7 linked regions of the Homo sapiens genome follow. The protein of the gene in region 1 purifies or fractionates together with the protein of each later gene. This does not show direct contact. Each region holds a gene or a part of one and is shown in the gene's direction. Other genes may lie near its edges. The genes, in order: PSMB2, C11orf58, SULT1A4, HM13, RNF138, UBE3C and PSMF1.

What was found.
Region 2: the proteins of PSMB2 (region 1) and C11orf58 fractionate together in Homo sapiens (co-fractionation; one large-scale study listed by BioGRID). This does not show direct contact.
Region 3: the proteins of PSMB2 (region 1) and SULT1A4 fractionate together in Homo sapiens (co-fractionation; one large-scale study listed by BioGRID). This does not show direct contact.
Region 4: the proteins of PSMB2 (region 1) and HM13 purify together in Homo sapiens (affinity purification with mass spectrometry, with the first as the bait; one large-scale study listed by BioGRID). This does not show direct contact.
Region 5: the proteins of PSMB2 (region 1) and RNF138 purify together in Homo sapiens (affinity purification with mass spectrometry, with the first as the bait; one large-scale study listed by BioGRID). This does not show direct contact.
Region 6: the proteins of PSMB2 (region 1) and UBE3C purify together in Homo sapiens (affinity purification with mass spectrometry; one large-scale study listed by BioGRID and IntAct). This does not show direct contact.
Region 7: the proteins of PSMB2 (region 1) and PSMF1 purify together in Homo sapiens (affinity purification with mass spectrometry; 2 studies listed by BioGRID and IntAct, with this or other methods). This does not show direct contact.

What each region holds. Positions count from the first base shown.
Region 1 is NC_000001.11:35,603,527-35,607,026, reverse strand, and holds part of PSMB2 (proteasome subunit beta type-2), read left to right. Parts: intron 1-1,744; coding exon 1,745-1,794; intron 1,795-3,500. UniProt on the Homo sapiens protein: Non-catalytic component of the 20S core proteasome complex involved in the proteolytic degradation of most intracellular proteins. This complex plays numerous essential roles within the cell by associating with different regulatory particles.
Region 2 is NC_000011.10:16,745,147-16,748,646, forward strand, and holds part of C11orf58 (small acidic protein), read left to right. Parts: intron 1-2,950; coding exon 2,951-3,011; intron 3,012-3,500.
Region 3 is NC_000016.10:29,462,913-29,465,466, forward strand, and holds the end of SULT1A4 (sulfotransferase 1A4), read left to right. Parts: intron 1-432; coding exon 433-559; intron 560-654; coding exon 655-749; intron 750-1,247; coding exon 1,248-1,428; intron 1,429-1,550; coding exon 1,551-1,663; 3' UTR 1,664-2,054; downstream 2,055-2,554. UniProt on the Homo sapiens protein: Sulfotransferase that utilizes 3'-phospho-5'-adenylyl sulfate (PAPS) as sulfonate donor to catalyze the sulfate conjugation of phenolic monoamines (neurotransmitters such as dopamine, (R)-adrenaline/epinephrine, (R)-noradrenaline/norepinephrine and serotonin) and phenolic and catechol drugs.
Region 4 is NC_000020.11:31,520,942-31,524,441, forward strand, and holds part of HM13 (signal peptide peptidase), read left to right. Parts: intron 1-3,500. UniProt on the Homo sapiens protein: Catalyzes intramembrane proteolysis of signal peptides that have been removed from precursors of secretory and membrane proteins, resulting in the release of the fragment from the ER membrane into the cytoplasm.
Region 5 is NC_000018.10:32,098,374-32,101,873, forward strand, and holds part of RNF138 (E3 ubiquitin-protein ligase RNF138), read left to right. Parts: intron 1-3,500. UniProt on the Homo sapiens protein: E3 ubiquitin-protein ligase involved in DNA damage response by promoting DNA resection and homologous recombination.
Region 6 is NC_000007.14:157,264,426-157,267,925, forward strand, and holds part of UBE3C (ubiquitin-protein ligase E3C), read left to right. Parts: intron 1-3,159; coding exon 3,160-3,330; 3' UTR 3,331-3,500. UniProt on the Homo sapiens protein: E3 ubiquitin-protein ligase that specifically catalyzes 'Lys-29'- and 'Lys-48'-linked polyubiquitin chains.
Region 7 is NC_000020.11:1,132,102-1,135,601, forward strand, and holds part of PSMF1 (proteasome inhibitor PI31 subunit), read left to right. Parts: intron 1-3,019; coding exon 3,020-3,205; intron 3,206-3,500. UniProt on the Homo sapiens protein: Plays an important role in control of proteasome function. Inhibits the hydrolysis of protein and peptide substrates by the 20S proteasome. Also inhibits the activation of the proteasome by the proteasome regulatory proteins PA700 and PA28.

The sequences.
Region 1 (3,500 bases):
GTGAGGGTCTGGTTTCATTCTTCTGTGTATGGATATCCAGTTTTTCTAGCACCATTTATTGAAGAGACAGACTGTCCTTTCCCCAATGAGTGTTCTTGGTACCTTCATCAAAAGTCAAATGTAGATATGTGGCTTAATTTCTTAATTTCTCTATTCTGTTTAATTGGTCTATGTGTCTATTTTTATGCCAGTAGCATACTGTTTTGGTTACTACAACTTTGTGATATATTTTGAAGTCTGGTAGTGGTATCAACTACCAGATTTGTTCTTTTTGTTCAGGATTGCTTTAGCTATTCAGAGTCTTTTGTGGTTCCTTACAAATCTTAGGATTTTTTTCCATAATTCTGTGAGGCATGTCATTGGCATTTTGATAGGGATTGCATTGAATATATAAATTTCTTTGGGTAGTGTTGTCATCTTCATAATATTAATTCTTCTGATCCATGAGCATGAGATGTATTTCCATTCGCTTGTATCCTCTTCAGCTTATTTCATCAGTGTTTTATAGTTTTCGTTATAGAGGTCTTTCATCTCCTTGGTTAAATTTATTCCTAGGTATTTTATTTTCTTTGATTTTTGTGTCTATTGTAAATGGGATTGCCTTCTTGATTTCTTTTTCAGCTAGTTTGTGTATAGAAATACTGATTTTTGTATATTAATTTTGTATCCTGCAACTTTATGGAATTCATTTATCAGATGTGAGAGTTTTCTGGTGGGGTCTTTAGGTTTTTCTATATAGAAGATCATGTCATCTGCAAATAGGGACATTTGACTTCCTGCTTTCCAATTGGGGTACTCTATTTCCTCCCCTTGCCTAAGTGCTCTGGTTAGGACTTCCTAGACACAGGGATGCTTTTGTGCTAAGTTCCATCTTCTGACCCCAGTCCTAACCTCGACTTTAGCCTCTGTGGGCAGTGGGTACTTTGGAATTCTTAGCTTTTACAGACTATAGATGAAGCACAGATAACCACTTCTCTCCTTACATTCCATTCTTCACTGTCAGTATCGTAAGAATCTGGCATGTTCATTCTTTTTTGGTGCTGCCCTCTCGCTCAACCTTAGCCACGCTAGAGCTCCAGGCCACATCCTGAAAAGAATTAGCCTGGCCTCCCAGTGACTTTCTTGATTTGGCATCTGTCAGTAATACAGCTGATTTGCCCACCAAAATAACTACTAGCCACCCCTGAAGCCTGAGTGCATAACATGTCGTCCCAGTTTGCCACGCCCACAGACAGTTCCTTTGGCTCCTATTTGGGGAGAGTCTCAGCCCCATCCTATGAATTCTCTTCCCATTGTTAAACAGAGACCCAGCTGGGAAAACAAGGCTGAAATTCTGACCCCATCGTCTCTTTCCCTGATTTGCAGCTGACTGGGGCAGATGGAATTGATTCAAACCCTGGACTAAGGGGGAGTGAAAGGGGTGGGTTATGATAAAGAGAGACAGGCTGCTGGACTTCTTCAGAGGTGGGCCCTGGCCAGGGGAGGCAGAATTCCTTCATGCTCACCCTTTACTGTAGCAAATCAATTTGCAATGGCTTATAGCTGCTGGAGCACTGGGTCTGGGGCCCCCCCAGCTGCATGTGGAGTAAGTTGATTGCAGGCTAGAAGGCAAAGCATTTTTTGCCTTTTACGTTTGTGTGGCACTGAGACCTGAAGAAGCCAGATTTGGAACTTAATCAAAAGCTTCTGAGAGTTGGATATAATGACAGCACCGGAAGTATTTGGTCTCTGTGTTCTCTTTCAGCTATCTCACGTGAGAGGGCAGTGGAACTCCTTAGGAAATGTCTGGAGGAGGTGAGTAGTTCCCATAGGATCCTGAAAGGAATGTTTGTCTCTCTGTTTGCCAGTGTTGTTCCTGTTCCTCAGTTATATTTTTTCAGATTTTTGCCAGAAGGTGTAATACATACCCACTAACCAGATGTGAAGTTGCTACCAGGGATAGAGTTTGGTGTGGATAGCAAGCTCACTTTTCTCTCACAGATTACCTCCTCAATGTCAGTTTTATAATTTAATTCTTTCTGGTTTATCCAAACCAGTGGTTCTCAAATTTTAGTGTGTGTAAGTATCACCTGGGAAACCTGTTAAACAGATTGCCATCTCTGCCCCAACCCTCAATTCTGAGTCCACTGTTCTGAGGTACAAACTGGGAAGCTCTGCTTTAACTGGCAGTCCCAGGTGATTTTCCTACAGGTGGTAACTGAGGCTGTACTTGAAGAACTTCTGCTCTAGACTTTATTTTTTTATTTGAGACGGAGTTTCGCTTTTGTTGCCCAGGCTGGAGTGCAGTGGCACGATTTCAGCTCACTGCAACCTCCGCCTCTGGGTTCAAGCAATTCTCTTGCCTTAGCCTCCCGAGTAGCTGGGATTACAGTTGCCCACCACCATGCCCGGCTAGTTTTTTGTATTTTTAGTAGAGACAGGGTTTCACCATGTTGGCCAGGCTGGTCTTGAACTCCTGACCTCAGGTGATCCGCCTGCCTCGGCCTCCCAAAGTGCTGGGATTACAGGCATGAGCCACCACGCCCATCCCTGCCCTAGACTTTATACCTGCTCTGTTCTTGTGCCACCTGTAATTGCCATACTGCCTGCTCCCTTAATAGTGCTCGAGTCTTTGTAATCTGTGAGAAAAAGCCTCCCCTAAGAATTCAGGAGGACCATAGAAAGCAACTAGGAAGCTTTGGGCAGAAGGGGAGAGTAGACTTTGGCTTGCGAGGACAGGATTACAGAACACACCCTTTCTAACACTACTCCTTAGAGTCTAAGGCTTTGGGTATAGATGGAGAATGGGGGAATGGGGAGGTCAAAAACCAGCCACATTAGTTTTTTTCATTCTTTTACTGTTCCTGTGGCTTAAGGATGAACTTGACCTCGTGGTTTAGTAAGAGAGTAGGAAGATAAGAGCAGGAGCGTTGGGAGTAATGTCAGTTTGCTTCTTACACAAACCTTTTGTTTTCAGTCCACAGTGCCCACCCCACCCCCCGCTTTTTTTTTTTTTTTTTAAGAGATGGATCTCACTTTGTTGCCCAGGCTGGAGTGGAGTGCAGTGGCACCATCATAGCTCACTGCAGCCTGGATTTCTGGAACTCAAGCGATCCTCCCAAGTAGCTGAGACTACAGACAGGCACCACCATGCCCAGCTCATTTTATTTTTAAGAGATGGGGTCTTGCTATGTTACCTAGGCTGGTCTTGAACTCCTGGGCTCAAGATATTCTTCCACCTCAACCTCCCAATTACAGGCCTGAGCCACAGCTCCTGGCCTCTGCTTCGTTCTGAGGACAATCACTCTTTGTTAGCTTATTATCTTGAGACATTTTAAGAGAGACGTCTGTGTTTACCAGACTGATGGGTAACAGACTATGGGGAACAGAACACTGGATTGTCTCATTCTTTCGTCAGCTGACTGACCAGAGACAGGCTCTTAGTTGCACCTCCCAGTTCAGCCTCCCTGCCTCCCAGTCATCCTCCAGCTGCTGTTTGGGTACCCTCTACCACTAGAGTA
Region 2 (3,500 bases), on another chromosome or scaffold:
ATTTCTATAGTTTGTTACTAGATAGAGAAGTTTCTCTGAATGTGTAGAACACCAGGGGGAAAGAAAACCTTAATTTTAAAAATGTTCAAGATACTTTGAAATGCCTGTCAGTTTGGTTAACGTTAATAGAAGGTACAGTTGACCCTTGAGCAATGTGGGGGTTAGGGGTGCTGGTTCTGCAGGCAGTCAGAAGTTTGCATATAACTTTTGACTCCCCAACAACTTAACTACTAATAGCCTACTGTTGACTGGAAGTCTTACTGATAACATAATTATCAGTTAACACATATTTTGGGTGTTAAATGTATTATATCCTGTATTCTTACAATAAAGAAAAGGAAATGTTATCAAGAAAATTATAAGGAAGAGAAAATAATTGACTCTTCATTAATTGGAAGTGGATTATCATAAAGGTCTTCATCTTCATAGTTTTCATGTTGAGTGGGCTGAAAAGGAGGGATTGTCTTACTGTCTGGGAGTGGCAGAGGCAGAAGTATATTCAAGTATAAGTGGATCCACACAGTTTAATCCTGTGTTCAGGGTCAACTATATAAAACAAGTGCCAGGAAAATATCTATTGTAAAAACCTTTCTTTATCCTAGCAGTTTATACAGGGATCTCTAGATACTTAGTTTTTGTAAGCAAGTAAATTTATTTTCCTAACATTGTCCTAACAGACTTCCTACAAACTAAATTGAAAAGAAATAGGAAAGCTTTTTTTCTCTTTTTTTAAGCACATTAAAATGAAATTCTGCTCTTTGTTTTGTTATGCACATGGGAATACATTCATTCATTTTCCCAACAATTACAGACTACCTACTACTGTGCTGGATCCTGGGTGGTCATATAGATCAATAATACATGTTTGAAGCTATTATGTAATGGAGGAAACCAGATAATAGCAATACAGAATTGTAATTGCTGTGAGAAAGCCATGCACATAGTGCTGTGGAATCACAGAGGGCAGCTAACTCTGGTTTAGCAGTGCAAGAAAGCTTCCCCAAAATAGAATTGATCTGAATCTCAAAGGATGAGAAGGAGTTAGCCAGACTACAACAGTAGGTTTGGGGATAGGAAGAGGTCATGTAAAACACTGAGACCTATTTAAATAAAGCATTTGTATAATATCTCATTAATCGAGATTTCCCAATTTGTAATTTGTCATAGAAAATAGTCTGCAATTTCTCTTGTTTCATGCAAATATATTAAGTCCTCACTTAACATCCCTTGTGGTTCTTGGAAACTAACCTTTGGCAAACTGACAATAAAGTTGTTTCACTGTAACACTGATAAGGAGGAAAATTGTTTTCATTATAGGTTGTTTCAACTAAAATCAGTTAAAATCGAAGTTTCCAAGAACCTATCATTGAAAATTAAGTGAGGACTTAAAAGATTTGTTAAGGATATGTAAGGTAAGTGTTAGTTTAGGGGCCATATTCAACTTAGTAGAATGAAACTTATTCAAGTACTTAGGAAGAACATCCTAATATAAAATATATGGAAGTTGACTAACTAGTAAATAGGTTGTTCAGCATAGATTAAATTCTCTTTTTTTTGTTGTTGTTGTTTTGAGACAGTCTCACTGCAACCTCTGCCTCCCGGGTTCAAGCAGTTCTCTGCCTCAGCCTCCCAAGTAGCTGGGATTACAGGCACCTGCCACCATGACTGGCTAATTTTTGTATTTTTAGTAGAGTCAGGGCTTCACCGTTTGAACTCCTGACCTCGTGATCCACCCTCCTTTGCCTCCCAAAGTGCTGGGATTACAGGCATGAGCCACTGCGCCTGGCCCATAGATTAAATTCTTTGTGAGGCCAAGATTGTAGCTTTGATCTTCATATGGGGTGTTTAGAGGTATTCCATTTTGTGGCCACAAAGTATATTTGTAATCCTAGCCGGCTATCATGAATATTTTATTGGTCACAGGAAGAACCAGCTAAGAACATATGAATAGATCAGTGCAATACTGTCATCATCCTGGAATAACTTGATGCTGTTATATTAAAATCTTGTTAATGGCTGTCAGTTTTGCAACCTAAACTAGTAACACACTGAATTATTGATTTGCTTATGTGTTAATGGCACATAAAGCAATGAGCATTAACACTTGAAGTTTTTCGGTAGTATCATTTTTGTGTATGGAGACTGTATCTGCCATTTTTTCACAATAGGAAGGTTTGTTACTGTATCTTCACAGATGATTGGTTAAGATTGCTTTCCAAAGTCACATTTATTCTCACCTTCACATGGTGTTTTAATGAGCACTTATGAAACTAAATATGAACCATAAAGAGTGGATTGGACTGATTAAATTGAGAGTAATTATGCAGTTTAATCAGTTGGTAATATTGAATCATATGTATTTTTATGTTTAGAGTACAGGATTGTTTTAAATTGTTCTTTTTGACAAGTTGAGATTAGTAGTTTATTGTCAAATAGTAAAGAGATAGCTAATGATTGTGATATACTGTAATAAGATCTATCACTTTATATGATACATTATAAGTTTCAATTATTTCATTTTTGTCAGGCTAAATCTCATTTGCTTTCTCTCCATGAGATATACTTGAGGCAGCAGAAAGAGCAGGTGGGAAGTTAAAGCAACTCATTTAACTGGCCTTTAGGAAAGAAAATGTTTAGATTGACTCAATTTTCTAGTTATCTATTCATCTTATTTAAAATTCCAACCTGCTCTACTCCTTACTCAGGTCTGTTTTGTTTTAATCACACTTAGTACTTTCTAACATAGTATAAATAGTGATTACGTTTGCCTGTCTCCCTTCCCCATTCCTACCCTTGCTAGAATGTAAGGTCCTTAAAGGCAGAGATTCTAATTTAATCTTTTGTCTTCACTGTGTCCCAGAAGCCTAGAATAGTTTTCAGCACATAGTAGATACCCAATAAGGTTAAATTAGTGGTCTCAAATGCTAATACATTTTCAACCTTCTTATAGAAAGAACATACTGGTCGTCTTGTTATAGGAGATCACAAATCAACATCTCACTTCCGAACCGGTAAGAAAGTAAAGTGTAATTAAAATGGAAGTGCTAAATTCAGAATATGAAGTATGTGTTCATGTTTCAGGATATTCTACTTTGGCATGTAATTGTGTAAATTATTAAAATATTATAATTAGAGCTGGGTGCAGTGGCTTAATGCCTGTAATCCCGGTTATTTGGGAGGTTAAAGTGGGAGGATCACTTAAGCCCAGGAGTTTGAGGCTGCAATGAAGCTATGATTGCACCACTGCATTCCAGCCTGGGCTACAGAGCAAGACCTCATCTCTTAAATTTAAAAAAAAAAAGGAGAGAAAAAAATGCTGGGCACCTTGGCTTATGCTTGTAATCCCAGCATTTTGGGAGGCTGAGGTGGGCCGATCACTTGAGGCAAATCACCAGCCTGGTCAACATGGCAAAACCGTGTCTCTACTAAAAAAAAAAAAAAAAAAAAAATTAGCCTGGTGTGGTGGCTCACACCTGTAATCCCAGCTGCTTGGGAGGCTG
Region 3 (2,554 bases), on another chromosome or scaffold:
ATTAGAGGCATGAGCCACCACGCCCAGCCTTCATCACATCTTGAGAGAGGACACTGTCTGCCTCTTGCTCTGATGAGGGTCTGATGCAAGGATAGTGAGTCTCTACAGTGCACACTTAAGAAAGGCAGCATGTGGGTGCTCACAGGTCAGCGGAGGAGGGGGAGCTGGTGGGGACCAGGCATGCCTTGCTCCAGATCAGGATATGATGGCATTGGTGCAGATTATATTAGTATAGAATATGGTCTCAGGAACCAGGCAGGACTTTGGCTTCCGAGCAGGGTTCAGATCCCAGCTTGGCCCTACCTGTGCAGTGAGATCTCAAGCAAGTCAGCCTCTAAGCCTCAGGTTCCTCCTTTGCCAGTTCAACAGATGAGCTGGCCTGGGGTGGGCTGTGTGGTGATGGTGCTGGGGCTGGGTCCTCTGCCCCTGCAGGTGGTCTATGTTGCCCGAAACCCAAAGGACGTGGCGGTCTCCTACTACCATTTCCACCGTATGGAAAAGGCGCACCCTGAGCCTGGGACCTGGGACAGCTTCCTGGAAAAGTTCATGGCTGGAGAAGGTGGGCTTGACTGGAGGAAGGAGGGTGTGAAGCCGAGGGGTGGTGGCTATAACGTACAGCAACCCTGTGTCGGTGCCCCCTGCCCGCTTCTCTAGTGTCCTACGGGTCCTGGTACCAGCACGTGCAGGAGTGGTGGGAGCTGAGCCGCACCCACCCTGTTCTCTACCTCTTCTATGAAGACATGAAGGAGGTGAGACCGACTGTGATGCTTCCCCCCATGTGACACCTGGGGGCAGGCACCTCACAGGGACCCACCAAGGCCACCCAGCCCCGTCCCTGGGCGGCTCCCACAGCAAGCCCGGATTCCCCATCCTACCTCCCTGGCCCAGGCCCCCCCACTGCAGCCCCACCTGGCAGCAGGCTCGGCACAGCTTTCATCTTCTGCACCTGAGTCAGCTGCATGGGTGGCCACGGATCAGATACTTAGTCCTATTGCTTATCCTCACCAAAGGGTGTGCCACCCAGGGCCACAGTCATGGAAGAAGACCATCCCGGTCCTCACCCATAGGCGCCAAGCCCTGTTCATGATGGGATCACAGGGCAGAGATCAATTCATTTTACTCCAGAGACTAGGGCCCCAGGGGTTGAGGCTCTTTGGGGTTTCTAGGGGAAGTGGCCAGATCCCCTCTGAGGTTAGAGAGGGGGACCCGTTTTGTTTTGCTCCACTGAGGAGCCCTCTGCTGCTCAGAACCCCAAAAGGGAGATTCAAAAGATCCTGGAGTTTGTGGGGCGCTCCCTGCCAGAGGAGACCATGGACTTCATGGTTCAGCACACGTCGTTCAAGGAGATGAAGAAGAACCCTATGACCAACTACACCACCGTCCCCCAGGAGCTCATGGACCACAGCATCTCCCCCTTCATGAGGAAAGGTGGGTGCTGGCCAGCACGGGGGTTTGGGGCGGGTGGGAGCAGCAGCTGCAGCCTCCCCATAGGCACTTGGGGCCTCCCCTGGGATGAGACTCCAGCTTTGCTCCCTGCCTTCCTCCCCCAGGCATGGCTGGGGACTGGAAGACCACCTTCACCGTGGCGCAGAATGAGCGCTTCGATGCGGACTATGCGGAGAAGATGGCAGGCTGCAGCCTCAGCTTCCGCTCTGAGCTGTGAGAGGGGCTCCTGGAGTCACTGCAGAGGGAGTGTGCGAATCTACCCTGACCAATGGGCTCAAGAATAAAGTATGATTTTTGAGTCAGGCACAGTGGCTCATGTCTGCAATCCCAGCGATTTGGGAGGTTGAGCTGGTAGGATCACAATAGGCCACGAATTTGAGACCAGCCTGGTAAAATAGTGAGACCTCATCTCTACAAAGATGTAAAAAAATTAGCCACATGTGCTGGCACTTACCTGTAGTCCCAGCTACTTGGGAAGCAGAGGCTGGAGGATCATTTCAGCCCAGGAGGTTGTGGATACAGTGAGTTATGACATGCCCATTCACTACAGCCTGGATGACAAGCAAGACCCTCCCTCCAAAGAAAATAAAGCTCAAAATAAAATATGATTTGTGTTCATGTAGAGCCTGTATTGGAAAGGAAGAGAAACTCTGAGCTGAAAGAGTGAATGCCCGGTGGGGCCACATATGGTCACCTCTCCCCCAGCCTTCAGCTCCCCAGGTCACCATATCTGGGGAGGGGAGAAGGGTTTGGAGAAGTAAAACCCAGGAGATGTGTGGAGGGGGGATGTCTGTTTAATCCCAGCACATCCTCTGCTGTCCTGCCCCAAGATGGTGGAGGACGTCGAGTCCGCCGGGCAGCGTCACTTTTTCTTGGGCTCCTTAGAAGCTACCAGGTACCTCTGGGCCACACTGAGATGAGGGGAGTAGCCGTCTGCATAGGAGGTGTCTTCAAACAGGATAGAATAGTCCTCCTGGGGCTGTGGGGCAGGTGGACAGGAAGGGCAGAGAGCAGCCCCGGGGCTGGTGTCACTCACTTGTTGGTGGCATGGCTGTAACTGACCACCTCGGCCAGGATCCACTGCTCATCCCCATCCACGGCCTTCACC
Region 4 (3,500 bases), on another chromosome or scaffold:
GGCATCTGTCCTCTCTTACAGCTTTTGTTTCCGCTCTGATAACAACATCCAGAATGTCACTGGAAGCTACATTTACTTCTGCTGTTTGTGTCAGGTTTTTCCCCCACTTTCTAATTGTGTTTTATGTTGCAGGATCTATTGTATTTACATACACAAATCTGGTTAAAAAATCGCAATTGGATTGGTAAAGAATCCTAGCAACTTTTTAGTATTTTTGTAACTACAAAGATTAGCTGTTCAGTTACCTTCAGGATTCTGTTCCTCAGAAAGGTTGCAGGCTTCCCAAGTATCTTCCTGTTAAAACTTTCCAACCGAAATTTCCAGATAGGAAAGATAGAAATCTTCTAGGAAACAGCTCCCAAGAGTTTGGGGTCTGGAACTGGACTGCCTCAGTTTCAGTCCTGGCTCTGCCACTCACCAGCTGTGTGACACTAAGCAAGTTACTTCACCTCTCTAGACCTCCGCTTCCTCATCTGTAAAAGAGCTATTAAAAGTACCTGCTGGCCAGGCGTGATGGCTCACGCCTGTAATCCCAGCACTTCGGGAGGCCAAGGCAGGCAGATCACAAGGTCAGGATCTTGTGACAGACCATCCTGACTAACATGGTGAAACCCTGTCTCTACTAAAAATACAAAAAATTAGCTGGGCGTGGTGGTACATGCCTGTAGTCCCAGCTACTCGGGAGGCTGAGACATGAGAATTGCTTGAACCCAAGAGGCGGAGGTTGCAGTGAGCCAAGATTGCACCACTGCATTCCAGCCTGGGCAACAGAGCGAGACTCCATCTCAAAAAAAAAAAAAAAAAGTACCTGCTTTGTGGGGTTTTTGTGAGGATGAAAACATGTAAAGTACCTAGAACAGTGCAGTAATGTTATTGTTATTACTATTATCGTCAGATTTCAGGTCTCCCATTCTTTTTTTTTTTTTTTTTTTAATGGAGGCAGAGTATCTCCATGTTGCCCATGCTGGTCTCAAACTCCTGGGCTCAACCGATCTGCCCACCTTGACCTCCCAAAGTGCTGGGATTACAGTCCAGTCTCCCATTCTGACTCAGCATTGCAGCATGGGATATTTATAAGTCACCCGCAAAGGAGACCAGAGTCCTCTGTGTAATGGAGAGGATCTGTCCAACCTTGGTTTGTCACTGAATAAGATTAGGCCTCTTCCCACCCAGGGTGCTGAGCTGAATTGAAAGGAATATGTGGAAATGAGCCATAATGCTGGTTTGTAGGTGAAGCCACAGAGTCCTGCGTGTCCTTTGACAGCCCTGAGCCTCTGCATGTGCATATCTTTCTGCCTGATAAGCACTTCCTTTCCTTGTACACAAAGCACACTCCTCAAGCCGGGCATGGTGGCTCACACCTGTAATCCCAGCACTTTGGGAGGCCAAGGCAGGCAGATCATCTGAGGTCAGGAGTTTGAGACCAGCCTGGCCAACATGGTGAAACCCCATCTCTACTAAAAATACAAAATTAGCTGGGTGTGGTGGCAGGTGCCTATAATCCCAGCTACTCAGGAGGCCGAGGCAGAGAATCACTTGATTTGTAGTGAGCTGAGATTGTGCCATTGCACTCCAGCCTGTGCAAAAAGAGCAAAACTCCACTAAAAAAAAACAAAAAAAAAAAACTGACAAGCTGACTCCTAAACCCAGTCAGCATTTGTCTGGCTCCAGACTACCAGACACTGTGCTTGACCATCAAGGCCTTGCTTAAGTGGTACCTGCTCTTGCCACCTCTGACTCCCTTACTTCTCTGCAGAAATAGTGTCTTGTTGGCTGTGTCGTGATTCCGTTTTGCATAATAATGATACAAATGGTGTATACGGTTTAAATGATGACTCGAGATACAATGCTGAGTACTTCCAAAGCAGAAATCAGAATCCTCACAACTTGTTTTACAGCTGAGGAAATTGAGGCTTAGAGAAAAAAAAAATCACTTTCCCAAGGTCCCACAGCTGGGAAGTAGAGCTGGGAGTCCAAATGGACTTCCTGATCTCAGAGTCCCTTCATAACTGCTGATGTTCATACTGTGTGTCACAGTGATATACATGTCTATTGCATCATGTGTCACACTACATTATAATAGCCTGTTTGGGGTTTTTTTTGGGAGGGGGGCTTTTTTTTTTTTATGAGACAGAGTCTCGCTCTGTTGCCGAGGCTGGAGTTCAGTGGCACGATCCCCACTCACTACGGCCTCCACCTCCCGGGTTCAAGCAATTCTCCTGCCTCAACCTCCTGAGTAGCTGGGACCATAGGCGCACAATATCACACCCGGCTAATTTTTGTATTTTTAGTAGAGACGGGGTTTCACCATGTTGGCCAGGCTGGTCTTTTTTTTTTTTTGAGACAGAGTCTCGCTGTCCACCCAGGCTGGAGTTCAGTGGCTCAGTCTCGGCTCACTGCAACCTCCACCTCCCAGGTTCAAGCTATTCTCCTCCCTCAGCCTCCCAAGTAGCTGGGATTACAGATGCACACCAGCACGCCCAGCTAATTTTTGTATTTTTAGTAGAGACAAGGTTTCACCATGTTGGCCAGGCTGATCTCGAAATCCTGACCTCAGGTGATCCGCCCGCCTCCATCTCCCAAAGTGCTGGGATTACAGGCATGAGCCACCACGCCCAGCCAGTTTTGCTGTGCATTCCATAAAATAGAATACGTGTTCCCTGTAATATGTATCATGTCACAGTATTAACCTACCTGCCTGTGAGTGTTTCAAGATCAGGAACTCATTTTTGTACCCATACTACTGCTACACAGGAAATGTATTGAATGTGTGGAGATGCTCAGAGGGGATGAGGAACTTGCCCAAGTCCCACAGCACACTGCTGGCAAAAGCAGAAGCCAAGGGTTGGGAGAGAATAGGGAAGGAAGGAAACTGGGCCTCTCATGTGGGTATTGTTCACCCACCCCACTCCCACCTCCTAGCAAAGCTGTCCAAGTGACTCACATGGAGCTGCCTCCAGTGGCTCCAGAGGGGAGGGTCTCCCTTCCAGCCCAGAGCCTGGGCTGCCTCAGCCATGCATAGGCAAGGGTGTGGTTAGGGGCCTCCTCACTCACCTCTCCCTGATAGTCACAACCCCCAATACAGGCACAGTACTTTAGTTTGCCAGGCTGTTTCGCATCCCATATCTTATTTGCTTTAAGACTCCTATGGGGCTGGGTGTGGTGGTTCACGCCTATAATCTCAGCATTTTGGGAGGCCAAGGCAGGAGGATCACTTGATGCCAGGAGTTCAAGGCTGCAGTGAGCTATGATCCTGCCACTGCACTCCAGCTTGGGCAACAGAGAGAGACCCTGTCACTTTTCTTTAAAAAAAAAAGAAGGCTCTTGGACCTTTTTTGAAGTGAGGCTAGAGATTGTCCTCCTGTTTGACAGAGAAGTAAACCCAGTCACTCAGCAAGCCGTTAACAGAGCAAGGAATACCTTGGATACACTTTATGTGTAGCATTTTACTTATTTATGAACTATATCTGTAGGGAGAATTCCCACAGATGGAATTGCTT
Region 5 (3,500 bases), on another chromosome or scaffold:
CCTGGTCTCAAGCAGTCCTCCCACCTGAGCCTCCTGAGTAGTGGGGACTACAGGTGAGTGCCACAGCACCTGGCTTTGTAATTTTAACAGCTTTATTGGTATCTTGTTACTTGAGTAGTTATGCTCTAAGTATATACTTTAAAATAATTTTCTTCTTTCCTAAAATCTGTGCTATTTAATTATATAATAAAGGTTGAGGCCGGGCGCAGTGGCTCACGCCTGTCATCCCAGCACTTTGGGAGGCCGAGGCAGGCGGATCACAAGGTCAGGAGATCGAGACCATCCTGGCTAACACAGTGAAACCCTGTCTCTACTAAAAATACAAAAAAATTAGCCGGGTGTGGCGGCAGGCGCCTGTAATCCCAGCTGTTCGGGAGGCTGAGGCAGGAGAATGGCATGAACCCGGGAGGTGGAGCTTGCAGTGAGCTGAGATGGTGCCACTGCACTCCAGCCCGGGCGACAGAGTGAGACTCCGTTTCAAAAAAAAAAAAAAAAAGATTTACTTAATTTTAAATCTTGAGGACTAGTTTACAACCTTTGATTTTTTTTTTTTTTGAAGTTTTTTTGGGGAATGATCTCGATTATCGACTCGGAAAATAGATAGACTAAGTGCCAGATTTTAAATTATTTAATTTATACTGAAATTGGGAGCATGATGAGTGGGAATATTGTTTTTCCTCTCCCAGTGTTGTTGATTAGCCTTTTGTTGGGAGAATGCGTAATGGAAATTCGTCTAGCATCTGCTAGTTTAAAGTTGAGAGAAATGTAAAGAGACCTTTTTTGGTTATAGGGTAATGCCCTGTTCTGAAGATACGGGCCTTTTCAGGAACATGAAAATTAGTTTTAGTAATTCTTGATTTGTACCTTTTTCCTTCCTACTTCTGCTTTGTTTTGAAATAAGTTCTGTCTAGCACTTTGATCCATTCCAGCCCAAAGTGAGATGAGAATAATTCGTTTTATGTCTGAAGAAACATGCTTGGTTGTACAGAGGAAGGAACAGTAAAATTGGAGATAAGAGACCTGAATATCTCTATTTTATTTTATTTTTAGACAAAATCTCGCTCTGTTGCCCAGACTGGAGTGCAGTGGTGCAGTCTTGGCTCACCGCAACCTCCACCCATTGGGTTCAAGAGATTCTCCTGCCCCAATCTCCCGTGTAGCTGGAACTACAGGCATGCACCACTATACCCGGCTAATTTTTTTGTATTTTTAGTAGAGATGGTGTTGCACCATGTTGGTCAGGCTGGTCTCCAACTCCTGACCCCAAATGATCTGCCCCGCCTCGGCCTCCCAAAGTGCTAGGATTACAGGTGTGAGCCACTGCACCCGGCCATTCTTTGTACCTGTTATCACAGTTTGTAATCATAACATTTTTGGAATCAGATAATTTGACCAATGTCAGTTTCACTGGTTAGGCTGCAAGCTTTATAAAGAAAGCATCCAAGATCTCCTGTTACTTACTTAAGCCTACTAATATATCGTTTCACATATGAGAGTTTTTCCTGCCAGCTAAATTCTGACAAATGGAATTGCTGGGTCAAAGGGTAGATACAAACAAATATTTCTGATACATCACACAAGAATAATTGCAGCTCTAGTGAAGTGTCTTGTTCATGGAAAGTGCTCAAGGTTTTGATTTGAGAACTGTCAATTATATCTTTTGGTTAAGGGATTTAATACTTTTTAAATTAAGGTAAATTGGCATTCATTGCTTTAGCAAATATTAGGACTGCCTAATAGGTGCCTAGCACTGTTAGGTGCCAGGGATATTGTAAAGAGCAAATAGATAGGATCCCTGCCCTCTTGGAGCTGGGTGTTAGTGATTGAGATATATATATATATATATATAAAATCTTTGGTTGTACAGGGGAAGGAACAGTAAAATTGGACATAAGAGACCTGAATACCTCTATTTTATTATTTTATATATATATTTGAGACAGGGTCTTTCTCTGTTGCTCTGTTGCCCAGGCTAGAGTGCAGTGGCATGATCATGGCTCACTGCAGCCTTGACCTCTCTGGGCTCAAGTAATCCCCCTTTAGCCTTCCCAGTAGCTGGGACTACAGGCATGTGCCACCACCACACCCAACTAACTTTTTTTTTTTTTTTTTTTTTTTTGAGACGGAGTTTTGCTCTTGTTGGCCAGGCTGGAGTGCAATGGCGCGATCTCGGCTCACTGCAACCTCCGTCTCCCGGGTTTAAGCGATTTTCCTGCCTCAGCCTCCCAAGTAGCTGGGATTAAAGGCATGCGCCACCAGGCCTGGCTAATTTTGTATTTTTAATAGAGACGGGGGTTTCACCATGTTGGTCAGGCTGGTCTCGAACTCCCAACCTCAGGTGATCCACCCACCTCGGCCTACCAAAGTGTTGGGATTACAGGCGTGAGCCCCCGCGCCCGGCCTGTATTTTTTGTATAGACTGGGTTTCACCATGTTGGCCGGGCTGGTCTCGAATGCCTGAGCTCAAGCGATCTGCTCGCCTTGGCCTCCCAGAGTGCTGGGATCACAGGCCTGAGCCACTGCGCCTGGCCTGAGATATATTTAAATTAAAATAAATGCTCAGAAAAATGGTGTAATTACAAATGTATAGGTTTCGAGAGAGTATAAGAGAGGGATCAGATCTAGTGGGTGAGTATCGATGACCCTTTCTTTAGGAAGTGATATTGTTGCTGATATCTAAGAGAGATATAGGTATTAATTTGTGGAGGGCTGTGCTCGTGCATAGAACATTCTGGGGAGAAGAAACATTCTGGACAAAGGTCCCGAGGTAGGAGGGAACATGCAGGGCTTTGTATTTGAATGACAGAAACATCTTCTGGGCTTCAACCTCTTATAGGTTTCTTTTTTTTTTTTTTTTCAAAGACAGAGTCTGGCTCTGTTGTCCAGGCTGGAGTGCAGTGGCACACGCAGTCTTGGCTCACTGTAACCTCCGCCTCCTAGGTTCAAGCCATTCTTCTACCTCAGTCTTCTGAGTAGCTGGGATTACAGGCGTGCACCACCACTCCTGGCTAATTTTTGTGTATATATATATATTTTTAAATTAGAGTCAGGGTTTCACCATGTTGGCCAGATTGGTCTTGAACTCCTGACCTCAAGTGATTTGCCTGCCTCACTCTTACAGGTTTATTAACATTTTATTTTTTTAAGCCTTAGTTTCCTCATCTGTAAAATGAAGGAACTTATTAAGAAAAATTTATTTTTTTTTAAGAATTCAAGATCATGAATGGATAGTTTCTGGGATCCAGCCTAGCACCTAGCACATATTATGTACGCAATAAGTGTTAACTGCTATTTTCATAAATGTCATGTTGCTTTCCCAAAAATTGAGCTAATTTACAAAATGCCATTAGTACTATAAAAGTATATTTGTAATCCATCATCTTTGCCAATTTTGTTTTTTTAAGCATTTTTATGCTATTTTAATACAGTTCATAGTGGTGTCTAGAAGTCACATTAAAATGTATTTCTTTAGTTGCTAGCAAGGCTGCATGCATTTTTCC
Region 6 (3,500 bases), on another chromosome or scaffold:
TGGTACTACAGGTGTGAGCCAACATGCTCGGCCTGTTACACACACACACACACCTGGTACTACAGGTGTGCGCCAACATGCTCGGCCTGTTACACACACACACACACACCTGGTATTACAGGTGTGAGCCAACATGCTCAGCCTGTTACACACACACAAACATATATATTTTTAAGACAGAGTTTCACTCTTATTGCCCAGGCTGGAGTGCAATGCGTGATCTCGTCTCACTGCAGCCTGCAACCTCTGCCTCCTGCCTCAGCCTCCCGAGTAATTGGAATTATTACAGGCATGCACCACTACAGCCGGCTAATTTTTTATTTTTAGTAGAGATGGGGTTTCGCCATGTTGGTCAGGCTGGTCTCAGAAATCCTGACCTCAGGTGATCCACCCGTTGTGGCCTCCCAAAATGCTGGGATTACAGTCATGAGCCACTGCTCCTGGTCACGTAATTTTTAAATATAATTTTAGCTGTATCTTGTGTTCAGTTTTCTAGGCTACCTTTTTCACTCAACATTACATCAGGATCATTTTTCCTCATGTTATTCTTTGAGATATTTTTAATGGGCTTGTAGTGTCCCATCATGTGATTTACCAGTTTACTTTCTGTTTTTTAGTTGTTTACAGCTCTTCCTTCGTTGTGATGCTGTGAACCTCTTGTGCATAAATTATCATGTGCATCTCTAATTATTTCTTAGAGTACAGTCCCAGGAGTTGTGAATGTGGGTGAAGCCCCTGCTCCTGCTGCCAGGCCCACCTCTCAGAGAGTTTCGTGTACACGTGTGCAGGGAAGGGCTGACCTAGCTAGGTCTCTGAAACCCGTGCCAGATACTAAATCTGCACAGGCTGCGACAGTGAGCAGACTGAGGGCGATCTGTGCCTTATTGTCTTCCTGTTGGAAGAGAACACATAAATCACGTATCTCAAATGTGAGGCAAATAGCTAATGGTGTTTGTGTATACGAGGAAGGTGGAGTCACCGGTTCTTCGTGGCCATCAGAGGACCGACACGCCCATAGGTCTCATGCATTAAGTCTGCGTTGAGCAATCCCTAACACGGTTTTTGCCTACAGATACATTTGCACAACTGTGAAAACCAGGTACGTATTCATTGCATCATTTTTTGTAAAAAGCTGAGAGAAGTGCCCAGCAACACGTCGTGCCGCGCGTGTGCATGGAACACCATATAGCCTCACCATTAATAGGCAAGATGAGCGAGACCCATTATCAGATGAGAAAAGCACGGCACGGAATACTGTGTCCAATGTGCTCACCGTCTCAATTTTAAACCTAAAGGAGGGAGAACATTTTCTCATGCGTGCATTTCATCTCTGGGAGCACTTAAGACGCTGAAGCGTTGGTTGCCAGTGGGAATGGGAACTGGGTATCTGTGATACAGGGATGAGAATTTTCACACTGTACCTTTAAATACCAGAACGTCATGAACACATCTGAAAAACAATATTCAAATTTCCCTGATCATCTTTCTTTTTTGTTAACAATTATTTAAATTCTGGCACAAGCAAGCCACTTTTCATCATGCATTTGGTCTATAGATGTTCTACCTCCCTCAATTTCGTCTTGTAATTTAATGAATAGGGGAACTGGGGCCGGGCACGGTGGCTCACGCCTGTAATCCCAGCACTTTGGGAGGCTGAGGCGGGTGGATCACGAGGTCAGGAGATCGAGATCATCCTGGCTAACATGGTGAAACCCCGTCTCTACTAAAAATACAAAAAATTAGCCGGGCGTGGTGGCGGGAGCCTGTAGTCCAAGCTATGCGGGAGGCTGAGGCAGGAGAATGGCGTGAACCCGGGAGGCGGATGTTGCAGTAAGCCGAGATTGCACCACTGCACTCCAGCCTGGGTGACAGAGCAAGACTCCGTCTCAAAAAAATAAATAAATAAAAATAATAGGGTAACTGGGTTGCTTCTTTGTATCTCTTGAAAACTGATAGAGGTCTCATCAGATTCTAAATTTGAATTTTTCTTTTTTTGGCAATAACATCACATAGGTAATGTCGTATGCTTCCCATTCCCTTAATCATCGTGGAGATCCACTTCTCGTGAGTCATCTCCCCACAATGCTGGGATCGATCTCTGCGTCAGAATTCCTCTTGATTTTAGTGGTCACTTATCACTGCCTAGATCCATTGTTTAATGTGCTTCTAAAACAGCCGTGTTCTAATTACATAATTGTATAATTTATTAGCTGGAATTTTCTATTTAAAAACAGCTTTGTTTCTTCTCACCAATGATTTGGTTAACCCGAGTAATAGCTTGTACAGGAAAGATAGAATAAATCTTGATCCTTTTTAAAAAATTTTTATAGACAGGGTCTCACTGTGTGTTGCCCAGGCTGGAGTGCAGTGGTGTGATCATACCTCACTAACCTCGACCTCCTGGGCTCAAGACATCTTTTCACCTCAGCCTCCCAAGTAGCTGGGAGTATAGGGGCAGACCACCACACCTGGCTAATTGTTTTGATTTTTATTTTTAGTGGAAATGAGGTCTCGTTATGTTGCCCAGGCTGGTCTCGAACTCCTAAGCTCAAGCCATCCCCCAGCTAGGCCTCCCAAAGTGCTGGGACTACAGGTGTGAGCTATGCGCCTGGCCTGGAATGTTATTTATCCCTTTTTATGCCTGAAGCACAGTGCATAATCTTTTATGTAAGTTAGAACTAAGCCATCAATGTAATTTTTTAAAAAAGCAAATGTGGGCCAGGCACGGTGGCTCACGCCTGTAATCCCAGCACTTTGGGAGGCAGAGGTGGGCAGATCACAAAGTCAGGAGTTCAAGACCATCCTGGCCAACGTGGTGAAACCCCTTATCTAGGAAAAATCCAAAAATTAGCCAGGCATGGTGGCAGGCACCTGTAATCCCAGCTACTTGGGAGACTGAGGCAGGAGAATCGCTTGAACCTGGGAGGCAGAGGTTGCAGTGAGCTGAGATGGCGCCATTGCCCTCCAGCCTGGGCGACAGAGCTAGACTCCATCTCAAAGAAAACAAACAACAACAACAAAGCAAATGTGGTTTCGGGAAAATGTGACTGCAATGGTAACTTTACTGATTGGAGCAGGCACATTTTGTGTACTTTGTATTAAAACTCATGTAATGCCATGCTTGTTACAGTGACATCTTGCACACATGCTGTTTTTCAGGAGTTGTATCCCGCATTTTGTATTCACAACGGAGGCTCCGACCTTGAGCGGCTCCCCACAGCCAGCACCTGCATGAACCTGCTGAAGCTCCCCGAGTTCTATGACGAGACACTTTTGCGAAGTAAACTTCTCTATGCGATTGAATGTGCCGCTGGCTTTGAGCTGAGCTGAAGCTGATGCTGGGGTCAGACCCCTACAGAGAACCAGTGCTTCCTTCGTCAGCAGCGCCTCCCCAGACCCACGAGGATACTCACACTGCACGCCTGAGGCTCTCCTAAGCTCCTTCTTTCATTCTGCCATTCCTCCCTCCCTTCCTTTTTTAAATGATTTTTATTACGGTG
Region 7 (3,500 bases), on another chromosome or scaffold:
TTTTCCATTGATCTCTATGTCTCTTCCTCTGTCAATATTACTCTATCAGTATTGATTATTGTAGGCCTTAATATTGAGTAGAATAATTCCTCCCACTTTTTCTTCGTCAAGGTAGTTGTAGCTATTCTAGGTTCTGTGCCTTTTCTTTTTTTTCTTTTTTCTTTCTTTTTTTTTTTCTTTGTTTGAGACAGAGTCTCACTGTGTCTCAAAAAGGCTCAGGCTGGAGTGCAGTGGTGTGATCTTGGCTCACTTCAACCTCTGCCTCCGGGGTTCAAGTGATTCTCCTGCCTCAACCTTCTGAGTAGCTGGGACTACAGATGCGTGCCACCATGCCTGGCTAATTTTTTGTATTTTTAGTAGAGACGGGGTTTTACCATGTTAGCCAGGATGGTCTCGATCTCCTGACCTCGTGACCCACCCATCTTAGCCTCCCAAAGTGCTGGGATTACAGACGTGAGCCACCGCACCTGGCCTCTGTGCCTTTTCATATAAACTTTAGAGTAAGCTTGTGTATATCTATGAAAAACCTTGCTAGGATTTTGATAGGAGTTGCATTAAACCTATAGATTAGTTTGGGGAGAATTGACATTCTTGCTATGAACATGATATATCTTATCTCTCCATTTATTAATATTTAGGTTTTATTTGATTTCCATCAGTATCATTTGTAATTTTCAACATATAGATCCTGTACATAGCTTGTTATTTGTTTAAAGCAGAAAGGGAGATGATTATGAATGGCATATTCTGTCCTTTGTTTTGGTTTTCAAATGTTCATTGTTAGTGTGTAGAAATGTAGTTGATTTTCCTGTGTTGAACTCTTCTATCCTGTCACCTTGCTGAATTCAAGGTGTTTAGGGTTTTTTTGTTTTTTTTTTTTTTTGGTAGATTCCTTGGGAATTTCAGGGTAGACTATCATGTCATTTGCAAATAGGGACAGTTTTATTCCTTACTTGCTAATATGAATGCCTTTTGTTTTTCTTGCCTTATTGCAGTGGTCAGGATGTCCAATATTATGTTAAATAAGAGTGATGAGAAAGAATATGCTTTCCTCGTTCCCAATCTTAGGAGCAAAGCATTCAGTCTTTCACAGTAAAGTATATTGTTAGGGGTAGGTTTTTTGTAAATGTTCTTTATCAGGTTAAAGAAGTTCCCCTTTATTCTTAGTTTGTTGAGAGTTTTTAATCTTGAATGGATTTATCATGTTGGATTTTGTCAAAAGCTTTTTTCTGTATCAATTGATATGATCATATGATTTTTCTTCCATAGCTTATTGATATGGTAGATTACGTTGATTGATTTGTGACTATTAACCAGTCTTGCATGCCTAGAACAAATCATACTTGGTCATGGCATATAGTTCTTTTTATACATTTTTAAATTCAATTTGCTCATATTTTGTTGAGGATTTTTTTTGTGTGTAAGTTCATAGGATATACTAGTCTATATATGTGTATATATATATATATTTTTTTTTTTTTTTTGGTGTAGTCTTTGCCTGGTTTTGATACCAGAGTAATACTGGTCTCATGAAATGGATTGGAACGTATTCCCTCCTCATATATTTTCTAGAAGTGACTGTAAAATTGGTGTTAATTCTTCTTTGAATGTTTGGTAGAATTCTTCCTGAAATCATCTGAGCCTGGAGATTTTTGGTTTTTGTTTTTTTATTTTATTTTTTTAGAATGTTAAGTGTAATTCAGTTTCTTTAATGGAACTATTCAGATTATCTATTTCATTTTGGCTGAGTTGTAGTTTATGGTTTTTAAGAATTGGTCTATTCTGAGTTGTTGGATTAAGTTGTTCTTAGTATTCTCTTATTATCCTTTCAGTGGCTACAGATCTATTGTAATATCTCCTGTTTCGTTCTTGTTATTGGTGACTGTGTCCTCTCTTTGTATTTGTCAGTCTCGCCAGGAGTTGGTCAGTTTTATTCTTTTTTTTTGAAGAATTGACTTTGTTTCATTTTCTCTCTTGTTTTTCTTTTTTATTGACTTCTGTTCTTACCTTTATTACTTCTGCTTGCTTTGAGTTAATTTGCTCTTCTTTTTCTAGGTTCTTTAGGTCAGAATTTTGGTTATTGATTTGAATTCCTTCCTCTATTTTGATGTAAGCATTTAGTGCTATGAGGTTTCTTCTCAGCAATCCTTTAGTTATATCCCACATATTTTCGTATGTTTTTATTTTCATTTTAATTCAGTGCTATATATTTCTTTTTTGTGACTTTGATCCAAGGATTTTCTAGAAGTATGTTGCTTAATTTTCATGTATTTAGAGAGTTAACTTTTTGTTTTGATTTCTGTTATGATTCCATATGGTTGGAGAACATACTTTATATGATTTCAGTTATTTTACATTTGTGAGCTTTGCTTTATGGGCCAGGATGTGGTTCATTTTAAAATACCAGTGTTTTAGGAAGCCTGGAGTCCTGCCCACTCTGTTACCTCAGCCTGCCTCCACACCTCAGCTGTGGCTCACGTCACTTGTCTCTCACAGGCATAGAAAAAGAGGCCCAGGCAGGATGGGACAGGTGGTAGGGGCAGCCTTCCGAGGACCCCTGAGTTAGTGACAGAACTGGACCTTGAACCCCCAGAGCTCTGCCTGCCTGGAACAGGAACCTGGTTCATCCTCCCCATGGAGCCTTTGCCTTCCATGACCCTTCCCATGACACGTGATGAACACACAATGAAGCTGAGGGAGGGGTGAGGCGGGTGAGGACAGAGGAGTAGCCAATCCAGGCCCTGTGCCCCTACACCCTCACCTCTTTCTAATGGGGTGGTAAACAAGGAGGGGCAACTCAGATGCCTAAGAAGCTTGGGCCCAAATCTCAGAGACAGCGTGGGGCTGTTGCCCCCCTCACCCAGGTCCAGCAGGCGGCCTGTTCCCCCACTTATAAACAGGCCAAGCGCAATGCCAGGAGCTATCAGGGCCGCCGCCGCCGCCGTCGTTGCAGCCAGAATACCACTTCCAGGGTTCCTAGCCAACTGCAAGCAGTTGACTCTTCATCTGCTTCCTGCAGGACCTACAAGAACAGTGAGGAGCTTCGGTCTCGTATTGTGTCTGGAATCATCACACCTATCCATGAGCAGTGGGAAAAGGCTAATGTAAGCAGTCCCCACCGGGAGTTCCCCCCTGCTACCGCCAGAGAGGTGGACCCACTCCGGATTCCTCCACACCACCCACACACCAGTCGGCAGCCTCCCTGGTGAGTACAGAGTGCCTAGCGGGAAGCCCATGCTTCTGTAGAGGGATTCCAGCCAGCTATCCCCATCCTGCCACTTGACCCCATCCCTGGCCCGTATGTGTTTTCAACAAAATGATCAGTGTCTTGGGGTGCATGGAGTTAGAAAGTGGAGACGTAAGTGGAGCAGTGAGTTCTTGAACTGCTACTAGTCACCCTAATTACCCAAAATCCTAAGCCTGCCTGATTTCTTTCTAGGGGCCACACAGAGCCCCTGAGTCTGTCCAAGGATCAGTGCCTCTGGGGCTTATGTGCAGTA